Linked DNA regions of Homo sapiens. The protein of the gene in region 1 interacts with the protein of each later gene in a pairwise test. Each region holds a gene or a part of one and is shown on either strand. Other genes may lie near its edges.

Region 1 (3,454 bases):
GTTTGGGAACCCCTGCCCTGTGCACACCACTCCTCACTCCTAGGCCACAGAAAGTTCTAGGGTGTCTGCAGGGACAGATTCGTAGTTTATAGTTTATCCTGAAAACCTGGGGGCCTCCGTGGGTCTACTTCAGGCTGATTCTGTCATCTGGATGTGACAGTGCCAGGCTCTGGGAGGGACAACATTGGTTGAGTGCTTGCCATGTGTAAGGCACCATAGTAGAAAAGATAATGTGGTCCCTACCCACAGGAAAGTCACCGTCTAATAGAGAACTGTCTAATAGAGAATCTGCACAGTGAGCAGGTGAACACTAAACATCACAACTTGAGGGGTGAAAGACCACCTGTCTATGCCCTTCTCTTTAAAGATCAGAGAACTGAGGCCTGGTTGGAGAAGTGAGCCAGCCAAGATCCTCCTGCAGATGGGCCTTGGAAGGCAGATGCTATCTTTTGGCTGCACTACCCTGTGAAATAAAAGAAGGTTCTCTTATAATAGGTGTAAGAAAGTCCACTTTTTGGAGTTGGGCAACATTTTCAAAATTCTTCTGTCGATTTGCACTTTAAGAGTCCACACCTGGGCACGGTGGCTCACATCTGTAATCCCAGCACGTTGGGAGACAGAGGTGGGAGGGTCATTTGAGGCCAGGAGTTAGAGGACAGCCTGGGCAACATAGCAAGATCCCATCTCTATTTTTGTTTAAATAATAACAAAGGAAAATCAAAGAATCCTCATCTTTCACCAAGAGGGTTAAGGCAATTCTCACAAAGGAGATGGATGAGAACTAGAAGCAGCAGGCAGGTGCATGTGATTTGTAGGGGATGCTTGTAGTGAGGCCTGTCTGTTCTGCCTGCTCCTCTGGCACAAATTACCCCCAGCAGCTCCTTATATTAAGTCAAGCCATATGATCTAATCCAAACCACAGAATGGCCAGGTGAGGGAGGGGGAGGCTGCGTGGCCCATGGTCACTGTAAGGTGGGCCCCTGCTGCAGTTTGACACCCACAGGACCCTGAGCTCCCTGGGGCAGCACCAGTAGGCTTGCCCCCTGCCTCCTGCCAGCCTCACCTGCCACCTTCTGCCCCTCTCGGGATGCCTTTGCAGACAGAGCTCTTCGCTGCCTGTGGTGGCCACTCTTTGCTTTTGGTTCTCTTGCCCCTTGGCCTCCCTTTTTGTCCCCGGGCAGCCTTGTGTGACCTGCCCTTTTCCCTCCCTTCCTTTCCAGGACAAGCACGCCGAGGAGGTGCGGAAAAACAAGGAGCTGAAGGAAGAGGCCTCCAGGTAAAGCCTAGAGGCCAAAGAACTTTCCAGGTCAGCCGGACAGCTCCAGCAGCTCCACGTTCCAGGCAGCCTCGCCCGCCGGCTGCGCTCCCAGCACTGGGGTTTGGGGGGAGGGGGGTGGCCAAGGGGCGTTTCCTCTGCTTTTGGTGTTTGTACATGTTAAGAATTGACCAGTGAAGCCATCCTATTTGTTTCCGGGGAACAATGACGGGGTGGGAGAGGGGAGAGGAGAGAGTTTGGGAAAGGGAGATGGAGAAGAACTCAAGGACATTGCAACCCTGCCCGGCGCAGATCTGATTTTCACATCTCTACCTGGACATTGAGCCTCCAGGCACCATGTTGAGGAGAGATGAAAACCAGGGCGGTAGAACTTCAGGGTGAAGGACAGAGTCCTGGGTGGGGCAGCGGCTGCAGGGCGCACCAGAGAACCCAGCCAGAGGGGTTGTGAGTACCAGTGGTGTTGCTTCCACCCTGCAGCAGGTGGGATGAGGTCTGTGTGTGTGTGTGAACCATCATTTTTTGATCATCATGACCAATGAAACATTGACTCCAAGTGTCCAGTTCTTTATTTCCCAAATGTGTCCTTTGGGTAATTGTTAAAAAGTTCTCGAAACCTGGCTTTCATCCATCTGATGGCAGATGCCCCTTTGCTTCCTTAATTCTGCCATTCAAGCATCTGGAGCCTGGGTGAGGTGGGTTGAATCAGGCCAGCCTTTGGCATAATTGAAAGGTTTTCTCTTCTGTTTTTTAAAATCCCCTCTGTGGGCTAATCTTTATTGGATAGCATGCACTAAATTGATGAGAAAAGAAACTCAATCTTCCTTTCAATGAACTGACATCCTAATATGGTCCCCAAGATGCACTGTAAGAAGGAATTTGTCTTAGTCACAACCGTTCAGACTGCTGTAACAAAATACCTTAGACTAAGTAATTGATAACAGAAATTGATTGCTCACAGTTTTGGAGGCTGGGAAGTCCAATATCAAGGTGCCAGCAGATTCAGTGTCTGGTGAGGGCTTGCCATCTGCTTCAAAGATGATGCCTTTTTGCTGCATCCTCACATGGCAGAAGGGAAGGGCAAAAGGGCTTCCTTGAGCCTTTTCTTTAAGGCACTAATCCCATTCATGAAGGTGGAGTCCTCATGATCTCACCTCTTAAGGCCCTATCTCTTAATTCTGTAGTGTCGGGATTAGGATTCAACCTGTATATTGGGGGAGACAGCAACATTCACACCATAGCAGAAGTCCTCCATGCTTTGGGGGTTTGAGATTCTAGGTAGATTAGAAAATACGAGCAAGGAAATAAAGTGTTTGCTAGTAGAAGGCAAAGGAGGCATCCAGACCCAGCAGTCTTGGTCTCCAGGACACTGAACCATGGCTGGAAAAGAAGCTCTCCTCCTCCCTTCCCCTGCAAACATGAGTGCAGGGGCTGCCTGTGTTAACCGGGTCCCAGGACCTCTTCCCACTCTGCTCTGCACACTGTGTAGTTTTTTACAGCTTTGCAAATAAACCCTTTGGTATAGCCTTTTTTTCTTTCTTCTCACTAGTGGTACTGTAATTTGGCTTTATTTTAAAATAAGATAACAGGAGGATCAAAGATGATGATGATGATGATGATGATGATGATGATGATGATGGCAGCAGCTAACTTAGGCAGCACTTACTAGATGTCCTACACTTTTCTGTACTTTTACATCTATATTATCTCACTTATCTTCACACCACCTGTAGGAGGTAGGTACTCTTATCATCCCATTTTGTAGACAAAAGAATTGAGGTCTAGAAAGGGTAAGTAACTTGGCAAGGTCACACAGGGAGTAAATGGGAGAACAGGGACTTGAATTGGGCGGTTTGCTCCCAGAGTCCATATTCTTAGCCACTGGAGTGTGCTGCTTCTTGACACCTCCAAACTAGCATCTGAGTCCCAGAATAGGGTTTCTCAAGCTGTGAGTGGTGACTCACTGGATCTTGAGATCAACGTAGTGGATCCCACCCAACCTTTCTTTTCTTTTTTAAGTGGATTAGAATAGAAAAACAAAACATCAAAATGGGTGACAGGTGATAATGGAGGCATTATTTCATGGAAATTGTGTTTCAATTTTATATTTTGTGTATATATGTGTTGATCGCAGCATAAAGTGCATTTCTTATGGGGGGTGGCAGTCAAAACCCTTTGAAG
Region 2 (3,655 bases), on another chromosome or scaffold:
CCCACCTCGGCCTCCCAAAGTGCTGGGATTACAGGCCCCCACCATGCCCGGCCTCTTTAGCTTCTTTTGATTGGCAACATTTCCACATCCTTTATTTCTTTTTTACAACCCTGGCACTTTTAAAGAATACACTTTTTCCTTTTCAAAAATAGAATGTTGATCATTTTGGTGTTTTCTTAATGATTAAATTCAAATTATGCATTCTCAGAATATTATATAGCTGATGTGTCTTTCTCAGGATATAACATCTGGAGACACACAATGTCCATCTAACATGAATGATGTTAGAGAGTACTTGGTGAAGGAGTTACCTAGTTTCTACTGTATAATATTTTCCCCTTGCAACTAAGAAACAATCCATGGAAAGACATTTTAAAACCATGCAAATATACTAACCCGTAAAAATTTCCCCCTAGATTTAACATCCATGATTGTCCTTGCCTGATCCAATCTTTACTATGTTGGTTGCAAAATGCTGATTTTTCCATTGCTAGCACTTCCTCTACGTTTACCAGTCAACACTCAGCATTCTGCTTTAAGCCATAGCCCTCATTTCTCCTTTTGTTTTTTATATAAACTCATAAATTCCCCCCTCCCATGGTTCATAATTAATTACTGTGTAAAGTAGAGGATTTGATTCTGGGGTGTGTCAATGATAACTTCAAGAGGTCAGTGATCACCTTGAAATTGTGTGCAATCTTCTGTGTTCTGGCATCTTTCTAGGGAGAGTGTTCCTGTCATCAGAATCTTGAAAGGGTTCTGGACTCAAAAGTGGAAAACATATTGAAGGGTTAGACTTTAAGCTATCTGTAATACTTACAATACATTTGTATATCCATTCCCCTGCTTTTTACCCCAAGTGATAACTGAAATGTTAGAACCGTATTGTGTGTCCCTCTGTAGTACATTCTATTTTTTGTCTTCTGTTTTTAAACCACAACTTAAAATAGTGCTGTATTTTGGTTCCTTTAAATTTTTTCCTAGAATATATAATAAATGTTAAGATCTTCATTGCCACCGTAGTAGCAGTTTATGGTGTATAGAACCAGTCTTGTGAAGCAGTGAATTACCTTGATTTAATTTGAAATTTTAAAACCAATGTTTTTTACACTGTAGTTTTATTAGCTCTCTGGGAGTGAGCTACATGATGTTGTGCACTGAAAATTACCCAAATGTTCTCGCCTTCTCTTTCCTGGATGAGCTTCAGAAGGAGTTCATTACTACTTATAACATGATGAAGACAAATACTGCTGTCAGACCATACTGTTTCATTGAATTTGGTAAGGGCCTGATTTTTTTTTCCTTTTTATTCTGTCTGCATCCAATCATAAGCAATTTTAAATCTAATATTGGGTGGAGGGGGGACTTCTGCTATCTTGCTTTTGATATAATAATTTGGTAAATGATCTATAAATTATGGTAACTTTTTACTTAGATGCTTATTAGAAAAAAATTGTGTTTGAGCTGTGAAGGGGATTGTGAGTATTGGTCCGAAGAATTAATGCCAGAGGATAACTTCTCAATGAGAAATTTATAAGCCAGAGATTCAGACTTTTGCGTTTCTGTAATAATCTTTTATAGTCTGCTTCATGTAGAATAGGGGATGGCAAACATTTGCTGGAAAGGACCAGATAGTACATATTTTAGACTTTAAGGATCATATAGTCCCTGTCACAACTATTCAGCCCTGCCGTTGTAGCTCGAAAGCAGCCATAGGCAGTACGTAAATGAGTGCAGTTATATTCTAATAAAACTTTACAGAATAGTCAGCAGGCTAGATTTGGCCTGTGGGCAGTAGTTTGCTCAACTTCTGATGTAGAAGAAAAAAAAAAAACACCATGTTGTAAATAGTAAAAATAAAATTCCACTTGGAAAATATTTAGGAAATGTCTTATGTTAGTTTTATTCAATTTATTCTTTAAAACCTACATTCTAATGGTGTAAGCAATAAAAAACAGATTTATAAAAACATGCAACTTCTAGTGTGTGTTCTTATGTAATTGCAGCTGGTAAATCTGACAGATTTAATATTTCATGAGATAGGAATCTCTATAAAAATCAAGACTTTGGGCCAGGTGTGGTGTGGCTCATGCCTTTTATCCCAGCACTTTGGGAGGCCGAGGCAGTAGGATCACTTAAGGCCAGGAGTTCGAGACCACCCTGGGCAACATAGACCCTGTCTGTACAAAAATAAATAAATAAACTGGGCATGGTGGCTCACACCAGTAGCCCCAGCTGCTTGGGAGACTGAGGCAGAAGGATCACTTGAGCACAGGAGTTTGAGGTTACAGTGAGCTATGATTGTACCACTGCACCCCAGTCTAGGTGACAGAGCAAGACCCTGTCTCAAAAAAAAAAATTCAAGACTTTGGTTTAAAGTTAAAGCTGTTTTTTGTTTTTGTAATTTCTTGAAGTGGATGTAATACACTTAGGTAGTGTTAAATCCTTAGTTTATTTAAAATTACTGATTTCTAGAGGGTAAAACTGATGATTCCATGATACATTAATCATTAAACACAAGTAATATTGGACTATTTCATGACGAATTGAACAATTTTGAATAATAAACTACCTGTAATATTTACTATCCATAAACATCATATTCTGAAATGATTAATTGACAAGTGACTGCAAGGAAATTTATTTTTTATTTTACATAGATAACTTCATTCAGAGGACCAAGCAGCGATATAATAATCCCAGGTCTCTTTCAACAAAGATAAATCTTTCTGACATGCAGACGGAAATCAAGCTGAGGCCTCCTTATCAAATTTCCATGTGCGAACTGGGGTCAGCCAATGGAGTCACATCAGCATTTTCTGTTGACTGTAAAGGTGCTGGTAAGATTTCTTCTGGTGAGTTCTGGATCTCAGTTATTTTATTTTAAAAAAATCCTTGGGAAAAACTGAGAAACTCTTGAAAATGAATTACTTTATTCTAATATTTTAAATCAAGTACATGAGAGAATATAGAAGTTCAAAGCAATCCTTTCAGTGATTTATAAAGTAAGCTACCAGATGTGTGACTAATCGGGAAAATACTTTCAAATAGCAACCTCAGAGGATCTCTTTGCTAGAAAAACATTTTTTTAAATTTAAAATTAAAAAAAGTTAATTTTCATGGGTACATATTCGGTGTGTAATATATTTATGGGGTACATGAGATATTTTGATACAGGTATGCAATGTGTAATAATCACATTAGGGTAAATGGGGTATTCATCACCTCAAGCATTTATTATTTCTTTGTGTTATAAACATGTCAGTTGTGCTCTGTTAATTTTTAAATGTACAATAAATTATTGTTGACTGTAGTCACCCTATTGTGGTATCAAGTACTAAATCTTATTCATTTTAGCTAACTATATTATGTACCCATTAACCATCACCCTTTCTCCCACCCCCACTACCCTTCCCATCCTCCAGTAACCAAAATTCTACTCTCTTATCTCCATGAGTTCAGTTGTTTTAAACTTTAGCTCCCACAAATGAGTGAGAATATGTAAACTTTTCTTTTCTGTGTCTAGTTTATTTCAGTTAATAAAATGTCCTCCAGTTCATCCGTGCTGTTGCAAATGATAGGATCTCATTCTTTTTTTATGGCTGAATAATACTCTGTTGTGTATGTGTGCCACATTTTGTTAATCCGTTTGTCT
Region 3 (3,655 bases), on another chromosome or scaffold:
TCATTTATTCTATGATTTTTCATGAATCTGTTGAGAGCTCTAAAGATGAGTCTAATGTTCATCTCTTTGTTGAATTGGTCAGAAGGTCGTGTCCTGGACAAGATGATCTTCTCAGCTTGGACAGAATGCAGACAGGTGGGGAGAGGAGAGGAGCTACTTGAGAGGAGAAAAATCCTGAAAACATGGGGACTGAGGTGGAAATCATGTGTTTCCTGTTCCTTAGACAGCGAGACCAACTGGTCTCGTGCAGAAAGGGCACATGGATTATTAGAGGGAGTAAGGTTAAGATTGACAAATCAGAATGTGTTTATTCTGTTATGAATGCTACATTATAGTCACAAAATTGGTATTGAAACCCTGCATGTGTTTCTGTCTCTGAGCAACCAAATACTCCTTTTTTTTTTTTTTTTTTTGAGACAGAGTCTTGCTCCGCTACCCAGGCTGCAGTGCAGTGGCGCCATCTTGGCTCACTGCAACCTCCGCCTCTCAGGTTCAAGCGATTTTCCTGCCTCAGCCTCCCAAGTAGCTGGGATTACAGATGTCTGCCGCCAAGCCCGGCTAATTTTTTTTGTGTTTATTAGAGACAGGGTTTCATCATGTTGGACGGGCTGGTCTGGAACTCCTGACTTCAGGTGATCTGCCCGCCTCAGCCTCCCAGAGGGCTGGGATTACACACATGAGCCACTGCGCCCGGCTCCAAATACCCTTTAATGGGAAATTATATGGTCTTTTTTTAAAACAACAACAACATTGTAATCTGTAGTCGCAACATTGTGTCTGCTTGAGAAATAATATTTGTACCTTTGGGGTCACGTAGCCTCTGAGACAAACTTTGTCCTAATAAAAAGGCCGCTGTTCGGCCTTCTGTTTTTGAAATTTAAGAACCTCATTTATTACCAACTTCTTTTAGGATTATTAACTCAAACATCTCTTGGAGGATTAGTACAAATATTATGTTCTCCCATCATCTCTATAACAGGCTGTAATTCTGAGGACCAAGCTTGTGCCTTATTCATCCTTGTATCTCGTCCAGCACTGAATACAGTTCCTGGCATAAACTAATGATGCAATAAATTGTGTTTGAATTGAATTTTCAAAGCATTCAAGGCTGGCCACCTCTGCACTTGTGGGAGTAATTTGCATTTGAGCTGCATGTTTTGAGATATATCATGCATTTAATATTGTTCTTTAGGTCCAGCCTGATGAGTGAAGAGGCTAAGCGAGGAGCACCCAACCCTTGGCTCTTTGAGGAGCCAGAGGAGACCAGAGGCTTGGGTTTTGATGAAATCCGGCAACAGCAGCAGAAAATTATCCAAGGTACTAAATATCCTGAGGAGTGTGGGCTCAGAAACCTTGCCAGAATTTTTTTTTTTTTTTTTTTGAGACGGAGTCTTGCTATGTCGCCTAGGCTGGAGTGCAGTGGCGTGATCTTGGCTCACTGCAACCTCCACCTCCCGGGTTCAAACGATTCTCCTGCCTCAGCCTCCCGAGAAGCTGGGACTACAGGTGCGTGCCACCATGCCCGGCTAATTTTTTGTATTTTTAGTACAGACAGGGTTTCACCCTGTTAGCCAGGATGGTCTTGATCTCCTGACCTCATGATCTTCCCACCTTGGCCTCCCAAAGTGCTGGGATTACAGGTGTGAGCCACCGTGCCCGGCCACCAGATTTTCTACTGGAGCCTTGTTTGTTCCTCATCCCCATTGAAAATTGGAGTGAAAACTGCTGGTCTTTTAAAGCTTTTGGTGTGTGCCTCAGGATACCTGAGGAATAGACAGTTGCTGTCACTCATCTCGGTGGCTCATGGAAGTGGTGATTTTCCATTGGGCAAGAGCAGAGAGAGCAGATCTGAATCTAAGTCCAAGCAAATTTGATGCTTATGCTCTTTACTTTAGCTTCACGACTGGGAATTAGTCTCCAAACACAAGACTCCATTTTATTTTTTAAATTATAAAATATGTCAGTTTGGCTTTTCTTTTTTATCTTTTGCCCTGTGGCTTTTTAACTTTTTTTTTTTAAACTTTCTTATATTTTTAAAATTTCAGAAGTATGCATGATTGTTATACAAAGTGTAAACAACATAGGAATGTATAAGATGAAAGCCCTCCATATTGTTTCTCCAATCTCAAACTGGAAACAGATTAATATGTATTTCCTTAGACCTTTTGTATACATTCACATACATATATTCAATATAAATATACTTATTTTACATAAATGGAATCATGAGATATTTAGCTCTCTCCATATATATATATAATTCCACACCTTTTTAAAACTTAGTATGTGTCGGCTGGGTGTGGTGGCTCACGCCTGTAATCCCAGCACTTTGGGAGGCTGAGGCAGGAGGATCACCTGAGATCAGGAGTTCGAGACCAGCCTGGCCAACATGGTGAAACGCCGTCTCTACTAAAAATAAAAAATTAGCTGGGTGTGGTGGCACGCACCTGTAGTCCTAGCTACTCAGGAGGCTGAGGCAGGAGAATCGCTTGAACCCAGGAGGCAGAGGTTGCAGTGAGCCGATATAGCATGTCACTGCACTCCAGCCTGTGCAACAGAGTGAGACTCCATCTCAAAGGAAAAAAAAGAAAAAACCACTTAGTATGTGTTATGGACTTTTTAAAATGTCAGTATGTACAGATACATTATTCTTTCTAATTCTGCTTTTTAAAATCAGCTTTATTGCCAGGCCTGGTGGCACATGCCTGTACTCCTGACACTTTGGGAGGCCAAGGCAGCAGGATGGCTTGAGTGTAGGAGTTTGACACCAGCCTAGGCAACATAGTAAAATCCCATCTTTAAAAAAATTAATGAATAAAAAGGAAGAGGGAGGAGGAGGAGGAGAAAATAAATCTAAAGTCAGCTTTATTGAGATGTAGTTGATATGATCATAAATGGCCCATGTTTGAAGTATATGATTTGATAAGCTTTGACATATGTATATGCCTGTGAAACCATCACTGCAATAAAAATAATGAACCTAATTGTTATTCCCAAAAGTTTTCTTCATGCCTCTTTGTAATTCTTCCTATTGTTCCTCCCTGCCATGCCCAGACAACTGCTGAACTTCTTTCTGTCACTATAAATTAGTTTCCATTTTCTATAATTTTATATAAATAGAACTATACAGTATGTACCTTTTGGGGAAGAAGGGGCTCTGGCTTCTTTGTCTAAGCATAATTATTTTAAGATTCATTGAACTGGTTATGTGTATCAGTATTTCACTCTTTTTTTTTTTTTTTTTTTTTTGAGACAGAGTCTGGCTTTGCTGCCTAGACTGGAGTGCAGTGGTACGATCTCAGCTCACCACAACCTCCACCTCCTGGGTTCAAGCAATTCTCCTGCCTCAGCTTCCCGAGTGGCTGGGATTACGGGCGCCCGCCATCATGCCCAGCTAATTTTTTTTGTATTTTTAGTAGAGATGGGGTTTCACCATGCTGGCCAGGCTGGTCTCGAACTCCTGACCTCAAGCGATCCACTCGACTCGGCCTCCCAAAGTGCTGGGATTACAGGCATGAGCCACCGCGCCCGGCCTGCATTTCACTCTTATATTATAGATTTGTATTCCATTGTATGGATTTACCACAATCTGTGTATCCATTCACCTGTTGATTAATATTTGGGTGGTTTTCAGTTTTTGACTGTTACAAAGAAA

What was found.
Region 2: the proteins of STMN4 (region 1) and SEC22A interact in binary tests that used the Homo sapiens proteins (3 or more experiments, as listed by UniProt).
Region 3: the proteins of STMN4 (region 1) and STX8 interact in binary tests that used the Homo sapiens proteins (3 or more experiments, as listed by UniProt).

Annotation. Positions count from the first base shown.
Region 1 is NC_000008.11:27,234,672-27,238,125, reverse strand, and holds the end of STMN4 (stathmin-4), read left to right. Parts: intron 1-1,220; coding exon 1,221-1,280; 3' UTR 1,281-2,818; downstream 2,819-3,454. UniProt on the Homo sapiens protein: Exhibits microtubule-destabilizing activity.
Region 2 is NC_000003.12:123,222,443-123,226,097, forward strand, and holds part of SEC22A (vesicle-trafficking protein SEC22a), read left to right. Parts: intron 1-1,116; coding exon 1,117-1,280; intron 1,281-2,660; coding exon 2,661-2,855; intron 2,856-3,655. UniProt on the Homo sapiens protein: May be involved in vesicle transport between the ER and the Golgi complex.
Region 3 is NC_000017.11:9,502,700-9,506,354, reverse strand, and holds part of STX8 (syntaxin-8), read left to right. Parts: intron 1-1,192; coding exon 1,193-1,317; intron 1,318-3,655. UniProt on the Homo sapiens protein: Vesicle trafficking protein that functions in the early secretory pathway, possibly by mediating retrograde transport from cis-Golgi membranes to the ER.